3 separate regions of the Homo sapiens genome follow, and regions 1 and 2 are each linked to region 3. The links come from fine-mapping of genetic effects on gene expression. A gene starts in region 3. Each other region holds a variant in brackets. All regions are shown on one strand. Distances are from middle to middle. Region 1 overlaps LOC105371512 (a long non-coding RNA gene). Region 2 holds the start of CTDNEP1 (CTD nuclear envelope phosphatase 1). Region 3 holds the start of ASGR2 (asialoglycoprotein receptor 2).

The links.
Region 1: its variant is fine-mapped to the expression of ASGR2 in whole blood (INTERVAL, PIP above 0.99).
Region 2: its variant is fine-mapped to the expression of ASGR2 in whole blood (TOPMed, PIP above 0.99).

What each region holds. Positions count from the first base shown.
Region 1 is chr17:7,134,399-7,142,573 of GRCh38, reverse strand. It overlaps LOC105371512 (a long non-coding RNA gene), which reads right to left. Exons shown (of 3, transcript XR_934191.3): 2 at 4,776-5,336; 3 at 1,811-1,896. It overlaps LOC124903910 (a long non-coding RNA gene), which reads left to right. Exons shown (of 2, transcript XR_007065600.1): 1 at 1-99; 2 at 131-325. It also overlaps the pseudogene RPL7AP64. Among named protein-coding and RNA genes, the nearest start is that of ASGR2, 24 kb to the right of the region's middle. The variant T/C (reference allele first, on the strand shown) is at 4,258.
Region 2 is chr17:7,251,374-7,259,539 of GRCh38, reverse strand. It overlaps CTDNEP1 (CTD nuclear envelope phosphatase 1), which reads left to right and starts at 7,806. Exons shown (of 8, transcript NM_001143775.2): 1 at 7,806-8,166. ELP5 (elongator acetyltransferase complex subunit 5) reads right to left here and starts at 7,325. Exons shown (of 8, transcript NM_203414.3): 1 at 6,944-7,325; 2 at 6,710-6,770; 3 at 6,542-6,622; 4 at 4,737-4,957; 5 at 2,502-2,683; 6 at 857-952; 7 at 614-714. The coding sequence starts at 6,989. RefSeq lists silencers at 6,669-6,908, 7,679-7,888, 7,959-8,078 and enhancers at 6,939-7,158, 7,027-7,615, 7,616-8,166. The variant G/A (reference allele first, on the strand shown) is at 3,136.
Region 3 is chr17:7,109,814-7,117,988 of GRCh38, reverse strand. It overlaps ASGR2 (asialoglycoprotein receptor 2), which reads left to right and starts at 3,167. Exons shown (of 9, transcript NM_001201352.2): 1 at 3,167-3,374; 2 at 3,679-3,872. The coding sequence starts at 3,749. RefSeq lists enhancers at 2,229-3,015, 4,821-5,321.

The sequences.
Region 1 (8,175 bases), 25 kb before region 3:
ATTGTGATTTGTTTCTGCCCCACCCTGACTGATCAATGTGCTTTGCAATCTCTCCCAACCTTAAGAAGGTTCTTTGTAATCTCCCACAACCTTAAGAAGGTTCTTTGTAATCTCCCACAACCTTAAGAAGGTTCTTTGTAATTCTCCCCACCCATGTATACTTTGTGAGATCCACTCCCTGCCTGCAAAACATTGCTCCTAACTCCACCGCCTATCCCAACACCTGTAAGAGCTAGTGATAATCCCACCACTCTTTGCTGACTCTCTTTTCGGACTCAGCCCGCCTGCACGCAGGTGAAATAAATAGCCTTGTTGCTCACACAAAGCCTGTTCGGTGGGCTCTTCACTCGGACGCACGTGACACGGCCCAGAGTTTTACTATTTCTCAAATCAGTCTCCCAGCATTCAGAGATCAGAGTTTTTAAAGATAATTTGGCGGATAGGGGCTTGGGAAGTGAGGAGCGCTGACTGGTCAGGTTGGAGACGGAATCATAGGAGATCAAAGTGAGATTTTCTTGCTGTCTTCTGTTCCTGGGTGCGGTGGCAGAACTGGTTAGGTCAGATTATGAGTCTGGGTGGTGTCAGCTGATCTATCGAGTGCAGGGTCTGAAAAGTATCTCAAGTACTGATCTTAGGTTTTACAATAGTGATGTTATTCCCAGGAGCAATGTGGGGAAGTTCCGACTCTTAGAGTCAGAGTCTGCATGACCCCTAAACTACAATTTCTGATCTCGTAGCTAATCTGTTAGTCTTGCAAAGGCAGACTGGTCCCCAGGCAAGAAGAGTCTTTTCGGTTAAGGGCTATTATCAATTTTGTTTCAGAGTCAAACCACGAGCTGAATTCCTCCCCGAAGTTTGTTCAGCCCACGCCGAGGAATGGACAAGGACAGCTTAAAGGTTAGACGCAAGATGGAGTCGGTTAGGTCTGATTTCTTTCACTGTCATAATTTCCTCAGTTATAATTTTTGCAAAGGAGGTTCCATTGCCTCCCCAGTGACTGTGGATCTCGTCACACCTGCCATTGTAATCGGTCCTGATAGCTTCCGCCACCTTAGCCAGAGCTGCTTTGTCTTCCCAGTGAGCCTGTGTGAAGGTGACAGTCTTTTCTGGGGTCTTCCTGCAGACCAGGCATCTCCGTCCTGCCTTCCCCTGGATAACGCAGTAAGGGAACCCCACTGTAGGACACAGCGCAGACAGAGAGACAGCAAGCTCGACGAGAGTCACGTGCAGTCACCACCAGCTGAGGCTTCTTGTTCTCCACCAAGGTGCTGTCGGGGTTAACCCTGCTCGTGGGACAGTTGGGGTCTTCATGGAGATGCCCCCTTTGCCGGCAGCTTTCTTCTCTGCACGGGCCAATAGCCTCTGCTTCTTTTCTTGCCCTGTCTCTGGTCTGTACCATGGTCCAGCTGATGCAGTTGAGGAGCTGTTTTCTCGGTCCAAGGCCTGGATGAGTCGGTCACTTGCAGGAGGCACTTTCAGCTGCTCGTGGAGGTCAGCCGTTTGCCACTGCAACCAGATGTAGTTGGGCCATTCAACAATCAACAAAGCAGGTGAGGTCCCTTTTGGGCTGGATAGCCTGTTCAATGCCAGATTCTTAAGCCTTTTCTCAAATGCCGAAATTCTTTTTTTTTTTTTTTTTTTTTTGAGACGGAGTCTCACTCTGTTGCCCAGGCTGGAGTGCGGTGGCGCGATCTTGGCTCACTTCAACCTCTGCCTGCTGGGTTCAAGCAATGAGCAATGAGCCACTGTGCCCGGCCTCGACTGCCTTCTTATTTCTGCGATTGCCACCAGATGCTGCTGCTGCAAACAAGTCCCGCTCAGCCAGAGGCCACCCCTGCCGTGGCTGCGCTGTAGTCACCGTGGATCTGGCTATAGTTTGATGCAGTAATACGGGAGCTAAAAAGAAATTACTTAGGCAGTTGGTGAGGGTAAGAGAGTCCTCGGTAAGGCATCCCTTTTAACAAAAAGCAGCCCCCACATCATTTCTTTTCTAACAAAGAGCAGCCTGTAAAATCGAGCTGCAGACATTGACAGGCAAGCTGGAAGCTTGAACGGGTGAATGGCGGCAGCCGTGCCAATCGGAAAAGGCTACCTGGGGCCAGGCATGTTCAACATGGAGGCTTCATCTTCCCTTTTCCTTATCAACCACCTGTACAGTAAAGGAAGCAGCAACATGATGCCAACCAGGTAGAGAATCCATTTGCATAATAAAAGATTAGGGTGGGGCGGCCAGCTTCTTCTTGCACTATGTAAATGGCATACCTGGTCCCGCAATCTTTTGGGCTCTGTGTAAATCAGACACTGCCTGGCCGGGTGGGTGCGGCGGCTCTCGCCTATAATCCCAGCACTTTGGGAGGCTGAGCCGGGTGGATCACCTGATGTCAGGAGTTTGAGACCAGCCTGACCAACATGGTGAAACCCCGTCTCTACTAAAAATACAAAAATTAGCCGGGCGTGGTGTGCATGCCTGTAATTCCAGCTACTCGGGAGGCTGAGGCAGGAGAATCCCTTGAACCTGGGAGGCAGAGGTTGCGGTGAGCCGAGATCGTGCCACTGCACTCCAGCCTGGGCAACAAGAGCGAAACTCTGTCTCAAAAACAAAACAAAACAAAACAAGGCAAAACCTCCAAATCAGACACTGCCTCCTCAAGCTCACCTATAACACCCAGTGCATTTCACCTCGGAGCCAGAAGACCGACTTGGGAGCCCCTCCCTCTCTGCAGGAGAGAGAGCTTTTCTTTCTCTTGCCTATTAAACCTCTGCTCTTAAACTCACTCGTCGTGTGTGCCTGCATCCTCAATTTCCTTGGCATGAGACGATGAACCTTGGGTATTACCTCAGACAACGAGCTTCAAAAGCTTAATGGAACAGACCGTCTACCCCTGTTGTGCCCTGCTTAGCTCTGTCCCGGAAGCCACTAGGCACCTAGGCTGTGACAGTTTCAGTCTTTAACCCCCAATGACAGCTTGCTCAGGGCACACCCAGTCCCTCCTTAGTGCTGCTGAGCAACTGCACCGTGTCCTCGGGCTCCAGAGGAAAAAACACTTCAGTTCATAGCCCTGCTCAGCAGAGGTCCTCAAAGCACATCTTCTCAGCCTCTATCTGGTGAGGGGGCACCTTCAGCCTGTGCCAAACGCGGCTTCCCTCACAAACCCTACCAGGCCTTAGCACTGATACAGGATTCTAGGGACTGAATGTTTCTGTCCTCCCCACCCCGGATTCATAGGTGGAAGCCCTACTCCACAGTGTGATGATATTTGGAGGTGGGGCCTTTGGGAGATAATTACATTTAGATGAGGTTGTGAGGGTGGGGTCCCCACGATAGGATTTGTGCCCTTGTTGGAAGAGAAGGAGGCCAGAGTGTGCTCTCTCATCCACGTGAGGACACAGCAAGAAGGTGGCTGTCTGTAAACCAGGAAGTGAGCCCTCCCCAGACACTGGATCTGCCGGTACCTTCACCTTGGGCTTCCTAGCCTCCAGAACTGTGAGAAAGAAATGTTTTTTTTTTGTTTAAGCCATTCAGTCCGTGGTGTTTTGCAATGGCAGTGCAAGCTGACTAAGACACAGGGTCACTTGTTCTATTTCCTCTTCAGTCATGATGGGCTTCCCTCGGGCCCTTTGGTGCCTTTCCCCGTCAGTGGACTTCAGCTAGAGCCTCTGTTCATCACAGAGGTTCTAAGGACATTAGATCTCCAAAAGAAAGGGACTAGGGTCTCAAATTTCTTTGCTTCACAGAAGCTTTTTGGCCCCACCTTTCAGTGACCTGTCTGCAAACCAAAACTGGCAAAGAAGGGCAGTCTCCCCTGAGCCACTGGAGAAGTCCTGCCTCCCCTGCCTGGGGTAGGCGACGGCTGGCTTCCCACTTAAACAGTTAAGGGGAGCTGCTCAGTGCTTACAAAGTCATTTGCTAACTTGCCTAGACAAAGAAGTTATTAGTAACTTTTACATGTCAGCTTGGGTAAACAAAACAAGTTTAAGTTCCTGTAATCAGGCAGCATGTTTTTATTATTATTATTATTATTTTATTATTTGAGATGAAGTATTGCTCTGTCGCCCAGGCTGGAGTGCAGCGGTGCAATCTCGGCTCACCACAAGCTCCGCCTCTCAGGTGCACACCATTCTCCTGTCTCGGCCTCCGGAGTAGCTGGGACTACCGGCGTCCGCCACCACGCCCGGCTAATTTTTTTGTATTTTTAGTAGAGACGGGGTGTTTCACCGTGTTAGCCTGGATGGTCTCCATCTGCTGACTTCGTGATC[T/C]GCCCACCTCAGCCTCCCAAAGTGCTGGGATTACAGGCGTGAGCCACCGCGCCTGGCCACCATGTTTTATTATTAAAAGTTAATGGGGGCCGGGCATGGTGGCTCACGCCTGTAATCCCAGCACTTTGGGAGGTCGAAGCGGGCGCATCACCTGAGGTCAGGAGTTCGAGACCAGCCTGGCCAACGTGGTGAAACTCTGTCTCTACTAAAAACACCAAAATTAGCCGGGCATGGTGGTGGGTGCCTGTGGTCCCAGCTACTTGGAAGGCTGAGGGGGAAGAACTGCTTGCACTTGGAAAGCAGAGATTACAGTGAGCCAACATCGCGCCATTGCACTCCAGCCTGGGCGACAGAGTGAAACTCCATCTCAAAAACAAAACAAAAAAAGTTAATGGGAAGAAAAGCTATAGCCAGCAAAGGTCACAGGCAGGCTGGGTGGCTATGAGACCCCTCAGAGAGGCTGGGGCTGGGAAGGGGTGTAGGGAGGGTAGATTACATTCAGACTGACTCATGCTTACCTCAGGCTGTGAGATCCCAGCCCTCTGGGCAGATCCTGAGTCTGGAGCAGGCTTGGCTTATACCAGGTGGGGCTGGGAGACCCCTCCAGCAGGTCCCTGGAGGCCATGGCAGATGTAGCTGGGCCCAGAGCATTACATGCCATGAATGGGAGGAGAGCCGCCGTTCTGTTTGATTTTCTCTCAGCTCTCCTGTCCTTCTCAGCAAAATTAGTTTGAGCCTCTGCCTCAAAACTTGCAAAGTGAGGCTCTGAAACCCCGTCAGTGAAGATATGCTCGCATTTGGTCTTTAAGGAAATAGCTCTGAGGGACTCTCGAGGCAGTCTGTGAAGGAGGCAGGCTGCCAAGACACCGTAGGGTGATGCTGGGGGAAGAATCATCACTGGTAACCCCGATTGCAGGGAGCGGTGGTTGGCGGAATCCCCTGGCGGGAGGCGCTGTCTTCCCAGAGCAGGAGTACAGTGTCCTCTGGGTGGAGAGAACTCAGCAAGGCTGAGGGTGGGGTTGCTCAGCCTGTGCAGATTCCCTTACTTACTTGTCCCGTCTCCCCACTTCCTAATTTTACTATAAAAGAGGGAAGGAACACGAAAGTCTGTTAGGGCAGAGAGGCTGTGGATTGCATTTAGTGTATCAAGAGTAAAACTCAAGAAGCTCTTTTTCAAATAATCTTTTAAATTTGGGGCTTATAAATGCAATCGTCCTGGTTTCTGAACTCCATGTAATAGATCTGGGGATGAAACAGAAGCTATCACGGTCTCAGGCCAAGCTGCCTCAACACCTTTAGGGGCTTCGCAAGCCTTTTTCGACTCTAAGATGTGAACCAGAAAGTGTTTTTGTGATTCAGGCTAGGATGTCTTACCAGTTGGCAAAAGAAAGATAATAAGTAAGTGTAGCCAAATAGTTCTCAGGAGCTGAATAATTGAATACTCTTAGCTATGTAAGAATGATCTCTTTACTGTTTAATGTTTCACTTCAGCTACTTAGAAGTATAATGCAGATTGATTGACCTCAAGTGATCTTCCTGCCTCAGCCTCCCGAGTCGTTGGGAGTACAGGCGTGCAACACCAGTCCTGGCTAATTTTTAAATTTTTTGTAGAGACAGGGTCTTGCTATGTTGTCCAGGCTATGAAGGTAATTTTATATATTATCTTAAATGATTTTGTGCATGAAACAGTTTCGATGGCATTTTGACTGAAACCTGTCACATGAGGTCAGGTGTGACATTTTCCACTTGTGGCTCAGAAAATTTTGGATTTTGGTGCCTTTCGGATTTTGGATTTTGGGATTAGGGTCGCTCAACCTGTATTAAAAAATAGTTGGGGTGCAGGGGAGTCTCTCTTCTTTCAGACTGGCACCTGCAGCTGTGACCACACGGTGGCGCTGCTATCCTGATGTTGGGAACATAAGAGAAAAAAGAAAAAAACCCAACTTCCTAAGGGCGAAAGAGTAAACTAGAAATATGAAATGAGGTTTAATACTGATTGCAGTAATTTTTAAAACTTTGCCTTTTACATAAAAAATTGTGGTAAAATACACACCACATAAAATTTAACCGTTTTTAAGTATGCGTTTCTGTTGCACGCGGCACATTCATTGCTGTGCAACCATCCATGGAACTCTTTTCATCTTTTTTTTTTTTTTTTTGGAGAGAGAATCTCGCTTTGTCGCCAGGCTGGAGTGCAGTGGTGTGATCTCGGCTCACTGCAACCTCCGCTTCCTGGGTTCAAGCGATTCTCCTGCCTCAGCCTCCTGAGTAGCTGGGACTACAGGCGCCCGCCACCACGCCCAGCTAATTTTTGTATTTTTAGTAGAGACGTGGTTTCACCATGTTGGCCAGGAAGGATGGTCTGGATTTCTTGATCTCGTGATCCGCCCTCCTCGGCCTCCCAAAGTGCTGGGATTACCGGCGTGAGCCACCGCGCCCGGCCAGAACTCTTTTCATCTTGTGAAACTGAGACTCTAAATCCATGGAACAGCAACTCCCCATTCCCCGCCCACCAACCCCTCCCCCTGGCGACCACACCATTCTACTTTTTGTCTCTATGAATCTGACTACCTTAGGTAGTGGGATTATGCAATATTTGTCCCTGTGTGACTGGGTTATTTCACTCAGCATAATGTCTTCAAGGTTTATCCATGGTGTAGCATGTGTCAGAATTTCTTTATTTTTAGTTTTTGAGATGAGCCTGGCTCTGTCGCCCAGGCTGGAATGCAGTGCCTCAATCATGGCTCACTGCAGCCTTGAACTCCTGGGCTCAAAAGATCCGCGTCTCGCTCTTGTTGCCCTGGCTGGAGCGCAATGGCGCAATCTCGGCTCACTGCAACCTCCACCTCCCGGGTTCAAGCGATTCTCCTGCCTCAGCCTTCTGAGTAGCTGGAATTACAGGCGCCCGCCACCGTGCCCGGCTAATTTTTTTTTTTTGTATTTTTAGTGGAGATGGGGTTTCGCCATGTTGGCCAGGCTGATCTCGAACTCTTGACCTCAGGCGATCCACCCACCTCAACCTCCCAAAGTGCTGGGATTACAGGCGTGAGCCACGGCACCCGGCCCAGCTTTATTTATTTTTATAAATTTATGGGAAACAAGTGTAATTTTGTGACATGCATAGATTGTGGAGTGGTGAACTCAGGGCTTTTAGAATCTCCATCACCCAAACAAATGTACCTTGTACCCATTCGGTAACTCCTCATCATCCAGGAATATTTAATTTGAAATTAATTTTATATGAAAACAAACAAACATATTAGATCCTATATACTTGTGGCAAGTGGCTCTCCTGGAGTTTGCTGTCTTTTGACAGGCAGGTGTGTAGGTGGAAACTCTGGAGGGTGAGGTTCTGGACTGAGGCTCTTCCAGGGGTGGCTGAGGCACCATTTCTCCAGAAAACCCTCCCTGGACACCTTATTTCTGGGGTCCCACTCACTCCATGCTTGTGAACCTGTATATTTTCCTCTTATTTATTTATTTATGTTTTGAGATGGAGTTTCGCTCTTGTTGCCCAGGCTGGAGTGCAATGGTGTCATCTCGGCTCACCGCTAACTCAGCCTCCCGGGTTCAAGCCATTCTCCTGCCTCAGTCTCCAGAGTAGCTGGGACTACAGGTGTGCGCCACCATGCCCGATTAACTTTTTTGTATTTTTAGTAGAGACGGGGTTTCACCATGTTGGCCACGCTGGTCTCGATCTCCTGACCTCGCCATCTGCCCGCCTCAGCCTCCCAAGGTGCTGGGATTACAAGCATGAGCCACCGTGCCCAGCCTTATTTTCCTCCTAACTGTGCTGTTCCTGAAGGCAGGGTCCCTTCATTTCTGTGCTTCTGGCACAGGGAAGAGCTGCCACGCTATGGGCATATGGTGCCCCCCCACCCCCACCCCCCAGGACCCTCTGGTTGTGCTTGGCTTCAA
Region 2 (8,166 bases), 140 kb before region 3:
TAGCTAACAGGTTGGGTCTGGATACTTTCTTCCAGGTGACTGTGACTCTCATTCAGGCAACCTGTTAGGCCTCCATGTCATTTTATTGGTCCAAGTCCCTTTCTCTGACCTCCATGTTAGAGCTGAAGCACCATTTGGTACTGGGATAGATACCCTTGTACTGCTCTCCTAATAAAACCGTAAGTTCCTAGCAGCTTGAGGGCAAGGATCTTGTAGTCTTGCGTCATCCGCCCACATACTGGGCACAGAACAGCAAGCGTGTACTAAGCCCTTGTTAACCAGCCTCTGCCACGCCCATATAGCCTTCTGTCCTCCTAGCACCACTGCCTAGGGATAGGGCCACCTCCCAAGGGTCTGGTCTGGCTCAGCCCAGGCCCAGGGTGCTCTGGGGACAACTGGAGCTGTGACCCAAGGGTATAAGGGAGAGAAAAGAGACATAAAGGTCCTCTGCCATTATAGGGGGAATGGGTGGATCAAGAACTTGGACTTGTCTCTGGAGGTGGACTTCAGTCCCTATAAAGTCAGGTTAATCAATAACCTGTTGCCCCAACCTCTCCATGGCCCAGATGCTGGGATCTACTCAGGGATCCACGTACCCAGGTCCCAACCTTACTTTTCAGAACTGAACTGGAAGGGCAGGATCAGGCTATCTCTGGCTTCTCTCTCTTTCTTGGACAGGTGAAGGTTAAAGGTCAAATGAGTTGTGGGATCCACCTGTAGGTACAAAGGATGCTGCCACTCTGCCCCATCCCTAGAATCCCTGACCCCACCCCCAACCTCTGCAGCTTTTATTTTCTCTCCCGTGACCAGATACTAAACTACATTTCCTTGTTCTGGCCTTGGCATTCTTAGATACCGGGGGTATATGAGGATCGGAGTAGGGCTGGGACTCTACAGAGGGCCCCTCTTGGAGATCCAGGCTGAAGTCCGGAAGGATGGAGAACCACTGAGTCTGGAGAGAAAAAAGAAAAGAGTTTTTTTCATCTTACTGAAGAAACTAGACAGACTCCAGGACCTCACATCCTCAGCCCCCAATCACCTATTTAACTGACTGCTTTCAGCTCCTGCCCTCAACTTTTTTTTTTTTTTTTGAGACAGGGTCTGGCTTTGTTGCCCAGGCTGGAGTACAGTGGCGTGATCTTAGCTCACTGCAACCTCCGCCTCCCAGGTTCAAGTGATTCTCCTGCCTCAGCCTCCCGAGTAGCTGGGATTACAGGCACGTGCTACCACACCCAGCTAATTTTTGTCTTTTTAGTAGAGATGGGGTTTTGCTATATTGGCCAGGCTGGTCTCAAACCACTAACCTCAGGTGATCTGCCCACTTCGGCCTCCCAAAATGCTGGGATTACAGGTGTAAGCCACTGCGCCCAGCCTCTATTTTATTTTCAAAAGTGAAAGCAAGTTGATTAAGGAAGTAAAGGAATAAAAGGATGGCGACTCCTTAGGCAGAGCAGCCCACTTACTCCTTTTTTGAGACGGAGTCTCACTCTGTTGCCCAGGCTGGAGTGTAGTGGCATGATCTCGGCTCACCTCAACCTCCGCCTCCCAGGTTCAAGTGATTCTCCCACCTCAGCCTCCCGAATAGCTGGGACTACAGGCACCCACCACTATGCCCAGCTAATTTTTGTATTTTTAGTAGAGATGAGATTTCACCATGTTAGCCAGGCCGGTCTCGAACTCCTGACCTCACAATCTGCCCACCTCGGCCCCCCAAAGTGCTGGGATTATGGGCCTGAGCCACCTCGCCTGGGCCCCACTTACACTTTATAACCTTGGTAAGTGACTTAAATTTAAACCTCCTTGGGCCGGGTGCAGTGGATCACACCTGTAATCCCAGCACTTTGGGAGACCAAGGCCAGAGGATGGCTTGAGCCTAGTTATTCAAGACCAGCCTGGGCAACAGGGTGAGATCTCATCTGTATAAAAAACTAAAAAGCTGGCTGGATGTGGTGCTACATGCCTGTGCTCCCACCTCCAGCTACACCAGAGGCTGAGGCAGGAGGATCACTTGAACATGGGAGGTCAAAGCTGCCGTAAGTTATGATTGCACCACAGCACTCCAGCCTGGGCAACAGTGAGACCTTGTCCAATAAAAAAAAAAAAAAAAACTCCAAGGGAATAAAACCCTCCCTGGACTGGCTTTCCAGCCTGAAAAATGGTGATAATAAAACAATCTACCTTAACCATAGCTGAGAGGATTAAATGAAGTGAGTGATAGAAAACAGAGAAATACCTAAATCAGCTTTTTTTAAAAAAAGGTCTCACTGAGGGCTGGGCACAGTGGCTCACGTCTGTAATCCTAGCACTTTGGGAGGCTGAGGTGGAAGGATCACTTGAGCCCAGAAGTTTGAGACCACCCTGACCAACACAGTGAAACCCCATCTCTAAAAAAGTTTGTTTTTAAAGTCTCCTTGAAACATCAGCATTTTCATTGTTCTTCCCATCGTGCCACCCCTTTCTCTGTCCCCCGTTTCCAGTCCTTCTCTGTTGGTTCTTCTGACCTGGTCAGTTGGGCGCTGTCGGGGCCTCCGACACAGGATGTGGGCCGAGGCCTGGCCCATGGTACCGCCCAGGGTCACCTCAGTCTGAGCAAGGCTGCTGAGAGCTCCCACAGGGCCTGGTCCATGAAGCTCTTCATGTAGCAAGCCCAGCACACTCACTTTCCCCACTGAGGAGCTGTCACCTAGAGGAGGACAAGAAATGTAGGATAGTAGGGAGCATTCAGGTTGGTGGCCTGGGAGCTAACAGTGAAGAAGAGAGAGCCTCACAATTCCATCACAGTGCTGCCAAAATCCTGACGTCCCTTGGCCAATCTCACTACCGTGCTCTGAGCCTCCTCCAGCCCACACCTTAATCTCCTCTATCATCCCAATGTAAAGCTGATCAAGGCACCGCTCTAACTTCTATTCTTCAGCAGCTCCTGCCTTCAGGATGGAACGAACGCTTCCAGCAGGTGGTGTCCACTTACTTTCCAGCCTCATCTCTTACACACGGAAGTACTTGTAGTTTCTGGAACTTCCCAAGATCTCAGTCAGTGCCTTCAATTCTCTGCCTCCCTTTTTGGGAGCATTTAGAGAGTGTCAGGTACTATGCTAAACGCTTTAACACAATGTTTGAATCCTTACAAAGGTCAGC[G/A]TTTTTAGGTCAAACTGTATGAAATCACTGACATTTAACAATTTTTTTTTCTTTTCTTTTTCGAGATGGAGTCTTGCTCTGTCGCCCAGGCTAGAGTGCAGTGGCGCAATCTTGGCTTACTGCAACCCCTGCTACGGGCTCAACAATACTGCCTCAGTCTCCTGAGTAGCTGGGACTACAGGCGCGTGCCACCACGCCTGGCTAATTTTTGTATTTGGTAGAGACGGGGTTTCAGCATCTTGGCCAGGCTGGTCTTGAACTCCTGACCTCGTGATCTACCTGTCTTGGCCTCCCAAAATGCTGGGATTACAGGCATGAGCCTCTGCGCCCGGACTGTTTTTATTTTTTTGAGATGACGTCTTTCTCTGTCACCCAGGCTGCAGTACGGTGGCGTGATCTCAGCTCACTGCAACCTCTGCCTCCTGGGTTCAAGTGATTCTCCTGCCTCAGCCTCCCGAGTAGCTGGGATTACAGGCGTGCACCACCACACCCAGCTAATTTTTTGTATTTTTAGTAGAGACAGGGTTTCACCATGTTGGCCAGGCTGGTCTCCAACTCCAGGTGATCCGCCCGCCTTGGCCTCCCCAAGTGCTGGGATTACAGGCATGAGCCACTGCGCCCAGACAATATTTAACAACTTTTAACCTAAGAAATGGCAATATAGTGGTTCATCCTAATACTTCCCTTGTACCTTCCCCCATATACAGGGGAAAGTGAAGCAATGAGAGATCAAGCACCTTAATACAAAGCTGGGCGTCTGACTCCTAAGTCCATTCGAGTACCCACAGTGCACTTCAAGGCTAGTCTCAGTGCCCCTGCCCGGCCAAATTTGCCTGGATGACCTCTTGCTCTTCAAGAGAGTGCCTTTTTTTTTTTTTGAGATGGAGTCTTGCTCTGTCGCCCAGGCTGGAGTGCAGTGGCCCATCTCAGCTCACTGCAAGCTCCACCTCCCGGGTTCACGCCATTCTCCTGCCTCAGCCTCCCGGGTAGCTGGGACTAGAGGTGCCCGCCACCAAGCCCGGCTAATTTTTTTTTGTATTTTTAGTAGAGACGGGGTTTCACCATGTTAGCCAGGATGGTCTCGATCTCCTGACCTTGTGATCTACCCACCTCGGCCTCCCAAAGTGCTAGGATTACAGGAGTGAGCCACCGCGCCCGGCCAAGAGTGCCCTTCTTTAAGGTGCCCTGTGCATGCCTGTATCATCATGGCCTTTATCAGACCATCTTGTAACTGCCTGTTTACTTATCTCCATCTTTTATGGGACTTCGAGCTCCTGGAAGGCAAGGACCCAGCTACAGTCAGTCTGTATTTTGCCATTATCTAGAATTGTACCTGACACATTGTATATATTTACTATTGATTTGTTAAATGAATGAATGAGTGAAACAAATGAGTAAAAAAATAACTTGGAGAAAAAAAAGCAAATGGTAGATGGCATTAAGGAGAAGTAAAAAAAAAAAAAAACAGACAAAAAAGTCAAAAAAATGAAAAAAGGTCTGACTGGAGAACCCAGATGTTTATTCTAGGGTAGAAAGGAAAAGGGGCACACTCCTTGGCAGAGGGAGATGTATGAGGGGAAACAATGAAGGAGGGGTCTCACCAGGACAAGAGTCCTGATGGCTCACAGCATGCAGGACCTGGCAGAGTGTGGTGCAGGGAAGGCGAAGTAGCAGCCAGCTGAGTGAATCGAGAGCAATGGTGACAGGAACAGGATCTGTCCTCTTGCACATGGCTCTCAAGGCTCCCAGCGGCCCCCCAGGAAAGGCCTCCTCAGTTTTTGACCAGTTGAGAGGGTCTCTGAAGAAGTCATGGTAAACCAGCCTGCAAAGGGAAAATAAGACACAATATAATATTGCCCCTTCCCCCGAGAGGATCACAAAGTTCATCCTCTGATCTTTATGGCTGTTTTCTCAATTTTTATGAATATCCTAAATATTAGTGAAAGATAATTACTGAGAGAGAGCATACAGTGATTGAGAGCACAGACTTTGGTGTCTGACAGCCTGATCTCCAAGCTTGGCTTTGCTACTTGCCCAAGGTCAGCTAACTGATACATTATTTCTAAGAGTTGCCTCATTGGTGAAATGAGATGCCAACCTCTAAGCATTCAGCACAGTGCTTGACACATAGTATATGCCTGATAAATGTTAGTTATCACCATTATCAAATATTTCCTGTGTGTGGCACCTAAAGATTATCACCCTGGGTGAAAAAAGAGAAAGCAGAGGACGTGAGATTTGGTCCTGCCTGTAGAACAGCTTAAAGAAAGTCAAGAATTAAGTCAAGAAGTAACAACTACAGAAAAAACAGCTCAGGAAAGGGAGACTGGCATAGGTAGCAGAACTTTTTTTCCCAGATATCTCTTTTCTATCTTCTCTTGTGGAGTGCCCGCTTTTTTTTTTTTTTTTGAGACAGAGTTTCGCTCGTTGCCCAGGCTGGAGTGCAATGGCGTGATCTCCGCTCACTGCAACCTCTGCCTCCTGGGTTCAAGCGATTCTCCTGCCTCAGCCTCCTGAGTAGCTGGAATTACAGGCATGTGCCACCATGCCCAGGTAATTTTTTGTATTTTTAGTAGAGATGGGGTTTCTCCATGTTGGTCAGGCTGGTCTCGAACTCCAGACCTCAGGTGATCCACCCGCCTCAGCCTCCCAAAGTGCTGGGATTACAGGCGTGAGCCACCGCGCCCAGCCATGGAATGCCATCTGAACATACACCACCGCCTCTATCACAACAATGGCTGATGCAAAATTGGAGGCTCAACAGATAAGATGTAAACTACTATTATCATCCACTGAGTTGCCGGGACTAGGAAGTAGAAAGCATCCTACTAATGGTTCTTAATGTCTCCTGATCAGGCATGCCGCTGGGTTTAGGAACTTCCTTATCTCAATACTTTCTTCTCCCCCATATTAGTCAATAAATCCTGGAAATTCTACCCACTAAAGTCCTTTACATGTGTTCTAAACTTTCCATCTCTACTGCCACTGCCTTAAACCAGGCCTCTATCACTTCCTACCATTATTCCCTAAAATTCATTAGGTCAGGAACAGGTCTCACTCACTGCCGTCTCCAGTATCTTGCACAGCACCTGGTTGATAGTTGGTGCTCGGTACATATGTACCTTAAAGAGTGAAGCCGGATTAACGGATTACTGCAATACCCTTCCCACATGTTCTCCCTATTTCCAGGCTATTTCTCTCTCGACTTCTATGATCTTTGCTTTGGACTCCCCAAATACTCATCACTCCTCTTATTAATTCTTGCCTCCTGAAAGATCCATATCCAATTCTTCAATGAATATTTAAGGAACTGCTACTACATACCAGGTTCTGCGCTTGTTGTAAAGAAATTTCCTTAGCATTATAGGTCTCAAATTTAATCAAATCTCTTCCAACTGGTACTTACCGATTGTTGATATCAGAGTCAAAACCTTCACGAAACTCTTCCTCGCTCACTTCACAGCCCAGGATATGCACTTGCTCCCCACTAAGGCAGAGATGAGAAGGGATTGTCAAAGAGTGGGCACAGGTGCCCTATCCAGGGTAGGCCGGGGAGACACTGTGGGATACTCACCACAGTGCAGATTTCTTGACAAGCGCCTTCAAGAGACTGCGCCCCTCCCACTCCACGGAATCTGCAGAGCGAGGGACGGATAAAGGGTATGAGAGCGCTGGGATTACCGCCTTCGCGAACCCGTCGCGATTTCCACACCTAGCCTGTGACCCCTGGCCCTTCCTGCCCACTTCCGTCCCCTCAGCCAGGCCCGAACCGCACCCCCCGCCCCGCCACCGTGCCTCTGGCTCTCACCCCGAAGCAGCACCAGGCCGCCCAAGGCCAACAGCGAGTCCAACATCTCCAACTCGCGTCCGGTCCCTGCTCTGGCGCCCTCTGATGGCGTCATGACCCAGTGTCCTTCCTCCTCGGGGTGAAACGGGCCGAGCACTCGGGCGTCCTCCCACCATTAAGACCTAACATAGTCTGGAATGAGAGGTGATTATGTTCAATATTCCCAGGGGGGCGCTCACGCGGAGGGCGCCCCTCCCCGAGCCCTGGCGCACAGTCGTACGGACAACGACCCCGTCTACATTTTCACTGTGACCGGGGCGGGAAGAGCAGTTGGGGCAGTTGTCAGTGGGAGGGGGAGGAGGACCCACAAGCCCCCCGCGAGGGCCCTAAGCGCGGGCCAAGTGACGTCACTCTCCCCGCCCACGCAGTTTGAGGCGGGGCCTGCTTCGCCTCAGGCCCCGCCCCGCGGCCACCTTCTGCGCGTGCGCAATACTGCAGCCTCGCTTGGAGTGCTTTTGGCTTTCCTTATACCTACCCGCCATAGACCGCGCAGGAGGAACTTAGTCCCGGTGAAGCGAATACACGTCACCACCGGAAGTAGTGTCAAAGGGGAAGAGGAGGGGGAAAGACAGGAAGAGGGAGTCCTTTGGACGGTAAAATGGCGCCTGTCAGAGTGGGAAACCCAGCTGCAGAGGCTGCAGCCCCGGTCCCCAGCGGCTAAAGGACCCCCGAGCTCGGGGAGGGGGAGGCCGCTCCGGCCCAGCGCTCTGCGCCCTCCGGCTCCCCCTCCCCCTCCTTCCCTGCTCCTTCGCTCTGCAGGCCCGTTCTCCGCTGCCGCGGCCCTTTGCGCGCCGCTGCCCCCGCCCTCCCCGTTCCTGCGAGCAGCCCCCTAGCGCGCCTGCGCAGCGGGCCACTCTCTGCTTTCCCCCCCTCCCCTTCCCTTTTCCCTTCCTCCCTTTTCCCTAGCCCCCTCCCCCACTGCCCCCTCCCCCAATTATCCTTCCCCTTCCCTCCAGGTCTCGGAGGACCCCATCCTAGCCCTACCTGTCTCGGCCCGCAACCTCCCCGAAGCCGTCGGTGCCACTCCCAGCCCATGTGGGCCCCCGCGGGCTGCCCACGCCTGTCCCCCAGCTCCCCGTTCCGCTGGGCTTTACCCTCGCCAGGGGTGGCTTTCTGAGCCGCCCGCTCCGTGCCCCTCTCTGCAGCCTCTCCTGCCACTCGGGGCCCCCGTTCCCCCTCCCGGC
Region 3 (8,175 bases):
AAAGTTCTGTGTATGTAAATACAGAACAGATAGACATGCAAACCCCATCACATATTTTATAAGGGTACCTACATATTTAGTAATATATATTGTTTCAGCTATCTACCGATGCATAATAAACCACCCCAAAGCTCCAGTGGCTTAAACCAACTGTTTTTTCTTAAGATTCTCTGGGTCAGAAATTTGGGCAGGGCTAGGCTGGGCGGTCCACGGGGTATTGGTTGGAGTGAAACACTTGGATACAATCAGCTGGTGACTGGGCTGCCCTGGAAACTCCCAGAAGACTTTGCTCACATGTCTGGGGCCTCAGTGCACCTCTGTGTGGCCTCTTTCTCTCTCCATGTGCTGTCTTATCCCCCAGGACTCTCTCTGGCAGGATAGTTGGACTTCCTCATAGCATGGTGACTGACTTCCAAGATTGAAAACTGAAGCTACCAGGTTTCTTGAGGTCCAGGCCCAGAACTGGCAGAGTGTCATTTCTAGTGCTTTCTGTTGGTCAAGGCAAGTCACAGGGCCAGCCCAGACTCAAGGGGAGGGGAAACAGACTCTACCCCTGGCTGAGTGGTGTGACTTGCACATGTGGTGAGGGGAGAAATTGATGGGCACCATCTGTGGGGACTGTCAGGGCACTCAGACTTCTGGCTGCCTATAGAGAGTAGAGAGTATAGAATTAGTGAGGGGAAACAGGATGGGAGCTAGGGAAGAACGAAACAGGACAAAGGTTTAGCTCAGACCTCTGAGGAAGACCTAGTGTCATGAAGTAAGGAATATGACCAATCTAACCTTTGTGTCTGAGGTACAAATAAACCCCAAATCAAAATCAACCAAATAAGGCCGGGCGCGATGGCTCACGCCTATAATCCCAGCACTTTGGGAGTTTGAGATGGGCGGATCACCTGAGGTCAGGAGTTCAAGACCAGCCTGGCCAACATGGTGAAAATACAAATAATTAGCCGGGCGTGGTGGTGCATGCCTGTAATCCCAGCTACTCAGGAGGCTGAGGCAGGAGAATCACTTGAACCCGGGAGGTGGAGGTTGCAGTGAGCTGAGATCGCGCCATTGCATTCCAGCCTGGGTGACAAGAGTGAAACTCTGTCTCAAAAAAAAAAAAAAAAAAAATCAATCAAAGAAAATAGGATTCCATAACCCAAAACAGAAAACCTCCAACAATATGGAAACTTCAGAAATAGTCCAAGTACATGTTAACTTCTAAGTTAAAATGATTTTCAAATAGGGAGAAAGAGAAGGACGCAGATGAGTCTGGCTTTCTCTGTCCCTTCTCTCCCTGTAGTGCCGTGAGTGGGGGTGTAAGTGACAAGCCCTGAAACGTGGAATTGGTTCAGTCAAAGGGGTGGCCAATGAGGATGGCCCCATCCCTGGTTGGCAGTTGGCAAAGCTTGACATGCAGTAGACAATCCATCTGTGAAGCTCTTACCTGTATCTCAGGACTAAATCCACATGCCCCTTAAGATGGGGGCTTCACAGCAGTGTTGTTCAGACTTTGAGTTGTGACCCATTAATGGACTGGGAAACTCAACAGAAGGCACGTAGTAAGGTGAGCATTGTCCCATCAAACTTTAGTGTCAACCGTGTATTTCCAAACGCATTATTCTATTCACTCACTCACTCAGTAGATACTTGTTGAGCAGCTACTGTGTGGCAGGCACTGGGGATCCAGGAGAAAGTAACACATACAAATGCACCTGTGTGTGCGGGTGCTTGTGTGTATGTTCTGGATCACAGCATGAAATTCGTCTCTCGCTGTGGGCTGCAGTCAGAGAGCCCAGCGGCTGCTGCTGCCTGGTGGCTGGGTGGGAATGTCAGGGTACTGGGGGGGTGGCTACTTCCCATGTGGGTCAGCAAGTTACAAGAACAGAAAAGGCCTCTGTTTGAATTCCTTTTCGGCACCCGGGGAAACGAGCAGCTTTATAAGAAACCCTGCCCGTAGCCATCCGCCCAAGTTTGGTGAGGGTCAGAAAATCATGCACAAAAACTGTGTTTTCTTTCCCGAGCTATTGTTAGCGCAAGTGTAGACAGTCAGCCACGTTCCTTGCTTCATGGAAGCCAGTCTTCCTCGTAGGACCATGAAGACCTTTTCTTTTCTTTTTCTTTCTTTCTTTTTTTTTTCTTTGAGATGGAGTTTCTCTCTTGTTGCCCAGGCTGGAGTGCAATGGCGCAATCTTGGCTAATGCAACCTCCGCCTCCCAGGTTCAATCGATTCTCCTGCCTCAGCGTCCTGAGTAGCTGGGATTACAGGCCCCTGCCACCACGCCCGGCTAATTTTTGTATTTTAGTAGAGACAGAGTTTCACCATGTTGGCCAGGCTGGTCTCGAACTCCTGACCTCAGGTGATCCACCCACGTCGGCTTCCCAAAATGCTGGGATTACAGGCGTGAGCCACCGTGCCCGGCCAGACCTTTTGTTATGATGTTATTTTCCCCTCTTTACTCCATTTTGCTTTGCCAGTTTCTCTACTCACCTGGGCCACCACCTAGAGCAAGTTGCCTCATCTCTCCGAGGCTCCGCTTCCGAACCCTGTGAAATGGGAGTAACAGAAGTCCTGCCTCGTGGGGGTGTTGTGCTGTGATAAATGAAGAAACACCTTGGAGAATTTAGGGCAGTGGCTGGGCCTGAGGACAGTGTTTGTGTTGCCTGGGCTGGGGCAGGGTCTGGGCCGGACGGGGCTCTCTGAGGTTGGATTCCTCCTGCGAGGAGAGCTGTTTTTCTGCAAAGCCCCTTCCTCCTCCTGCTGAAGCTTCTGGATTTGAGAGGCTTTACTCTCCAGGAGAGTGAAGCGAGTTGGGCCAGAGCTGAGAGTCTGGTGGCCGAGCCCACAGGAAGCTGGGGTCTGTGGTTCAGATGCCGGATTGGGCAAGAGTAGAGAACTGGTCGCTGTGATCCTGGTCAGGGATATTTGGAGACACCCACAGTTCTGGTAAATTCGGAGGCAGGAAGTGAGAGGGGGAGGGAGAGAGGGAAACGGCAAACTGCACCCCAGCCCCTCCTGGCCTGGCACCCCTTCCAAATGGTGCAATGAGTGGGGTGAGTGGCGTGTGGAGTTGAGCGCAGCCCAGGGGACCCCCCTCTCTGGGAATAAGAACAGAGATAGCCCCGTCCCCTGCCCCCACCCCACAAATGAGTTACAGCTCTGTTTCCTCTTCTGTTTACTGTCCAAAGTCCCAGGCCAGGAGGTGCCAGGTTAGAGCTTGGACACTCAGACCCTCCAGTGCAGGCCTTGCCCGGACCAGCCCCTCCTCCACTCTCCTCTCCCCTGTGAGCTCCACCTGCCCCAGTTCTCCTGGCTTTAACCCCTCCTTGGCCAAGGCCAGGGTTGCCTGCGGGAGCCAGGTGTCCGCTCTCCACACCTTTCACAGGTAACTGAGGCTGGGGAGGCAACTGGGACGAGGATGCTTGGGAACAAGGAGGCCTTGGTTCAGGGATGGGGAGGACCCCATGGGAAGCTGTGGGTGGTCGGGTCCATGAGCGTGGGGAGGGGTCTCCTGGCCAGGTCAAGGCCCAAGCGGTCTCCTGAGAAGGGAAAGGACCCAGCGGGATTTCAAACCTCATCCCAAACGCCCTGCCAACCTCAGATCCTACCCAGGCCACCACCCCGAACCCCTCCGACCCTGCGTTCCATCCCACCATCAACCTCCACGTGAATCTGCACCTCTGCCCCAGCCCCAGCCCTCAGAGCAACCTCAGCCCAGCCCAGCCCAGCTCCAGCTCCAGCTCCAGCCCGGGCCCCATCATGGCCAAGGACTTTCAAGATATCCAGCAGCTGAGCTCGGAGGAAAATGACCATCCTTTCCATCAAGGTGAGGGGCCAGGCACTCGCAGGCTGAATCCCAGGAGAGGAAATCCATTTTTGAAAGGCAAGTGTGCAGTTTCTGCGGCTTTGCTCCCCCTCTGTCTCAGCTCATGATTGCTCTGTCCCTTTGAGGTCTCTGCCGCACCCACTCTGTGAACAGGGACTGAGGAGGGCCCGACACCCCCGCTTGTTCCCTCACCTCACCTTCCTGTCTACCCCAGGACCCCAGGAAAGGCATGTGCCAGAGGTGTGGGGAGATCTGGAAGATAACTGCCTGCCCTTCTCCTCCCAACCCAAGAACACATGTGCCTCGTATGTGCGTGTGCACGTATGTGCATATGAGGAATGCAGATTCAGCTGGGACTCTGTGTGTGTGTGTGAGTGAATGTTGTGTGTGTGTATATGTGCGCGAGAGCGTGCATATGTTGTGTGTGTGTATGTCGTGTATGTGAGAGGGTATGTTGTGTGTGAGAGTGTGTTGTGTGTGTATGTTGTGTGAGTATATGTTGTGTGTATCTTGTGTGTGAGTGTATGTTGTGTGTTGTGTGTGTATCTTGTGCATGTGTGTATGTTGTGCGAGTGTATGTTGTGTATGTGAGTGTGTGTATGTTGTGTGTATGTTGTGTGTATGTATGTTGTGTATGAGTGTGTGTATGTTGTGTGTGTGTACGTTGTGTATGTTGTGTGTGTGTTGTGTGTGTGTATTGTGTGAGTGTATGTATGTTTGTGTGTTGTGTGAGTGTTGTGTATGTTGTGCGTGTGTGTATGTTGTGCGAGTGTGTGTGTTGTGTGTGTATGTTGTGAGTGTGTTATGTATGTTGTGTGTGTGAGTGTGTTGCGTGAGTGTGTGTGTTAGTGTGTGTATGTGATTGTATGTGTGTGTGTGTGTGTGTGTAGAGGTGGGGTGAGTTGGGATGGGTGGGGGACGTGAGCACAGAGAGATCCTGGAAGATCCCTGCTCCTCTCATCTCCCAAGACCCTTCCCTGGATCCTTCTGTAATAAATCTTGACTGAAGGACCTAAGTATCTTGGACATTTTTTTTTTAGAGACAGGAGTGTAGTGGCAGGATCATAGCTCACTGCAACCTCGAACTCCTGGGCTCAAGCCATCCTCCCACCTCAGCCTCCCAAGTAGTTAGGACTTACAGGTGTGCACCACTGTGCCTGGCAAATTAAAAAAAATTTTTTAGAGAAATGGGGTCTTGCTATGTTGCCCAGGCTGGTGGGAAAAGATTTTAAGGTGAGAGAGATCTGAGCAGTGCTAGGCAGAAGGGCAAGAGCCAGGAATGGAGGAGTGTCAGGTGTGTGGGTGCTGGTGGTGGAGCCGGGTTCCATGGAGGCAGGAGGAGCAGGGGCTTGGAGCTTAGGAAGGGGATTGGTTAGCTGGGCTGGAATGAGGGACTCCTCATTCCTGAGGCTGGCCAACCGAGGGAGGGCCGGTGCTGGGCAGGGCAGGGCAGGGGACAGGAGGGATAGGAGGTCCCTCCCGAGGACCACTCAGGAACACCAGTAGCATCTCCTCTCTCTGTAGGGGGCTGGCTGGACTTCCCACCAGGCGGTGTCCCCACAGGCAGAGGCCCTGTCCGCCTCACTCTCCTCTGCAACTCCAGTGCCCACACGGCACCCGGTACATAGTGAACACTCAGAGAGAATACGGGATGCTGCTGAATCTTCTGAGGGTGACAGAATTTAGAGTTTGAGCAGGAGGCTTGGAGAGAGGCCAGGATTTCTGAAATTAATGGGAGAGTGAGCTCACGCGAATGGGCTGAGGGACACCAGTGAGGGACCGTCTGAAGGGATGTAGCAAAGTCACCGCATTTCCCTCCAGCAGCCCGGGTGGTGGGGGCTGGGGGAACGTCATCATGGGAGCTGACACTGATCAGCTGCTCACCGGGGCCCATCTTCCACTTGTCTCAGCACTTGATTTTTTTCTGCTACCCCCTTTTTCTTTTAAAGATTTCAATTATGCATGTATTAAGGGTCCCACAGCTCACTCATTCTCTTTCCATTTTTTAATTCTTTTTTCTCCCAGTGTTTCATTTTATAGAGTTATTGCTGTTCATTAAGTTAACTAAAATTTTCCCCTTCCCCTCCCCCTCCCCTCCCCTCCTTTCCTTCCCTCGCTTCCCCTCCCCTCTCTCTCTCTCATCTCACTCTGTTGCCCAGGCTGGAATGCAGTAGCTTGTCACAACTCACTGTGGCCTCCACCTCCTGGGCTCAGGCGATCCTTCCACTTCAGCCTCCCAGGTAGCTGGGACTATAGGCATGTGGCACCACACCTGGCTAATTAAAAATTTTTTTTTGTAGAGACGGTTTTGCCATGTAGAGGGGTTTTGCCATGCTGCCCAGACTAGTCTTGAGCTCCTGGGCTCAAGTGATTCCCCCCGTGTCGACCTCCCAAAGTGCTGGGATTACAGATGTGATCCACAGTGCCTGGCCCTAAATTTTTCTTACGCATTTCTCATCTTCCATTATTTCCATCCAGTGTGTTTTTTCTTTTCTTTCTTTTCTTTTTTTTTTTTTTGGAGGCGGAGTCTCGCTCTGTTGCCCAGGCCGGAGTGCAGTGGCGCGATCTTGGCTCACTGCAAGCTCTGCCTCCCGGGTTCATGCCATTCTCCTGCCTCAGCCTCCCGAGTAGCTGGGACTACAGGCGCCTGCCACCACGTCTGGCTAATTTTTTGTATTTTTAGTAGAGATGGGGTTTCACCATGTTAGCCAGGATGGTGTCGATCTCCTGACCTCATGATCTGCCCGCCTTGGCCTCCCACAGTGCTGGGATTCCAGGCGTGAGCCACGGCGCCTGGCCAGTGTGTTTTTTCATTTCAGACATTGTAGTTTTTATCTCTAGAAGTTCACCTGGGGACTCTTAAATATCCTCCACAATTCTACTTAATTTTTTGAACATAATGGGATATGGCTATAATATCTGTTTTACCATCCTTGCCTGCTAATTCTAGCATCCGTGTCAGTTCTGGATCTCTTTTGATATTTATGAACCTCCTCGTTATGCATTGTGTTTTCCCGTTTCATTGCATGCCTTGTAATCTTTGATTGGCTGCCAGACATTGTCAATTTCACCTTGTTGGGTGCTGGATATTTTTGTATTCCTCTAAATGTTCTTGAGCTTTGCTCCGGGATGCAGTTAAGCAACTTAGAGTCAGTTTGATCGTTTGAACTCTTAATTGTTTTGGTCTCCTCGGACTCTCAGCTCCATCTCCTCAACGTGGGGAGTCTCTTGGGCTCTGCCTGGACTTCCCTTTCCTGGCCTGTAACCTGCAGACTCTCTCCAAACAGTAAGCTGGGGTGATCGGAGGGTTCCTGTTGTTTGCTTCTTATCCCTCAGGGATCTTTACTCCTCCTTGCCTGATGTCCAGAGTCTTGAAAGCTGCCATGTTCTATAGTTGTCTGTTTTTGTTTTGATTGTTTCTGGGGAGAGAAGAACTCTTCCCATCTTGGGCAGACCCTGTCTTTTATGTTCAAACTTTTGCCTAAGAAGCACATTACATATTTTAACTCATCTAATTATCCGAGCAATCCAATCGGGTAGCTACGACTGTGATCTCCATTTTACACACGAGAAAATGGAAGCATGGAGAAATTGAATGCTGGTGCATGATCTCAGAGCTACCTGGAGGCACAGCTGGGCTACCCTGTGGGCAGTCTGGTTTCAGGGTGGATATACAGACACGTTGCTGGGCTGACCCAGCATTGGGAGTTGATAAGTCGGACTGGGAAGCAGGACAGGACCCTCTGAGTGGAGGGTGCTGAAGACAGCAGTCAGGGACTCAGCCATGGAGGGCCAGCTTGGTGGGGAACACCGTGGTCATGGAGCGCTTCTGGATGGAGAGGAATGCAAAGGCCTTGGAGGAAGGGGTGGGGGCAGTGAGAGGGAGGGTGGGGCTGTGCTCAGAGCGGGAGTGGGCAGTGGAGGTGTCAGAGGCCTCCCTGGGTCAAATGGGGTCCTGAGTGTGGCTGCAGTGGGGAAGGTGGAAGTCACTGGTGTGAAAAAGATGAAGAGTTATGGACAGTCACTTACAGGGGCAGTGTCTGACTCAGGACAGTGGCAGGAAGTGACCTGGGGAGGAAGATTCTGGGCCCCTGACTGAGCCTCCCCAGGATGTGGTCCTGCTGGGTCGGGGGGTGATAGGAATGAGAAGACAAGGAAGTCCACAGAGTCAGGGTCCAAGGCCTAGAAGGTGTTCTGTTTGCAGGTGGATGCTGCAAAGAGAGGAGCTCAGGGCTGGGACAACTGGAGCTGCTCTGGGTCTGGAGGCAGCAGAGAGGGAGCCCAGCTCTGTGTGCAGGAAGACGTGGGTGTGTGAGTGTACGTGTGTGGGTGTGTCAGGTGTGTGTGTGTGGGAGGGAGT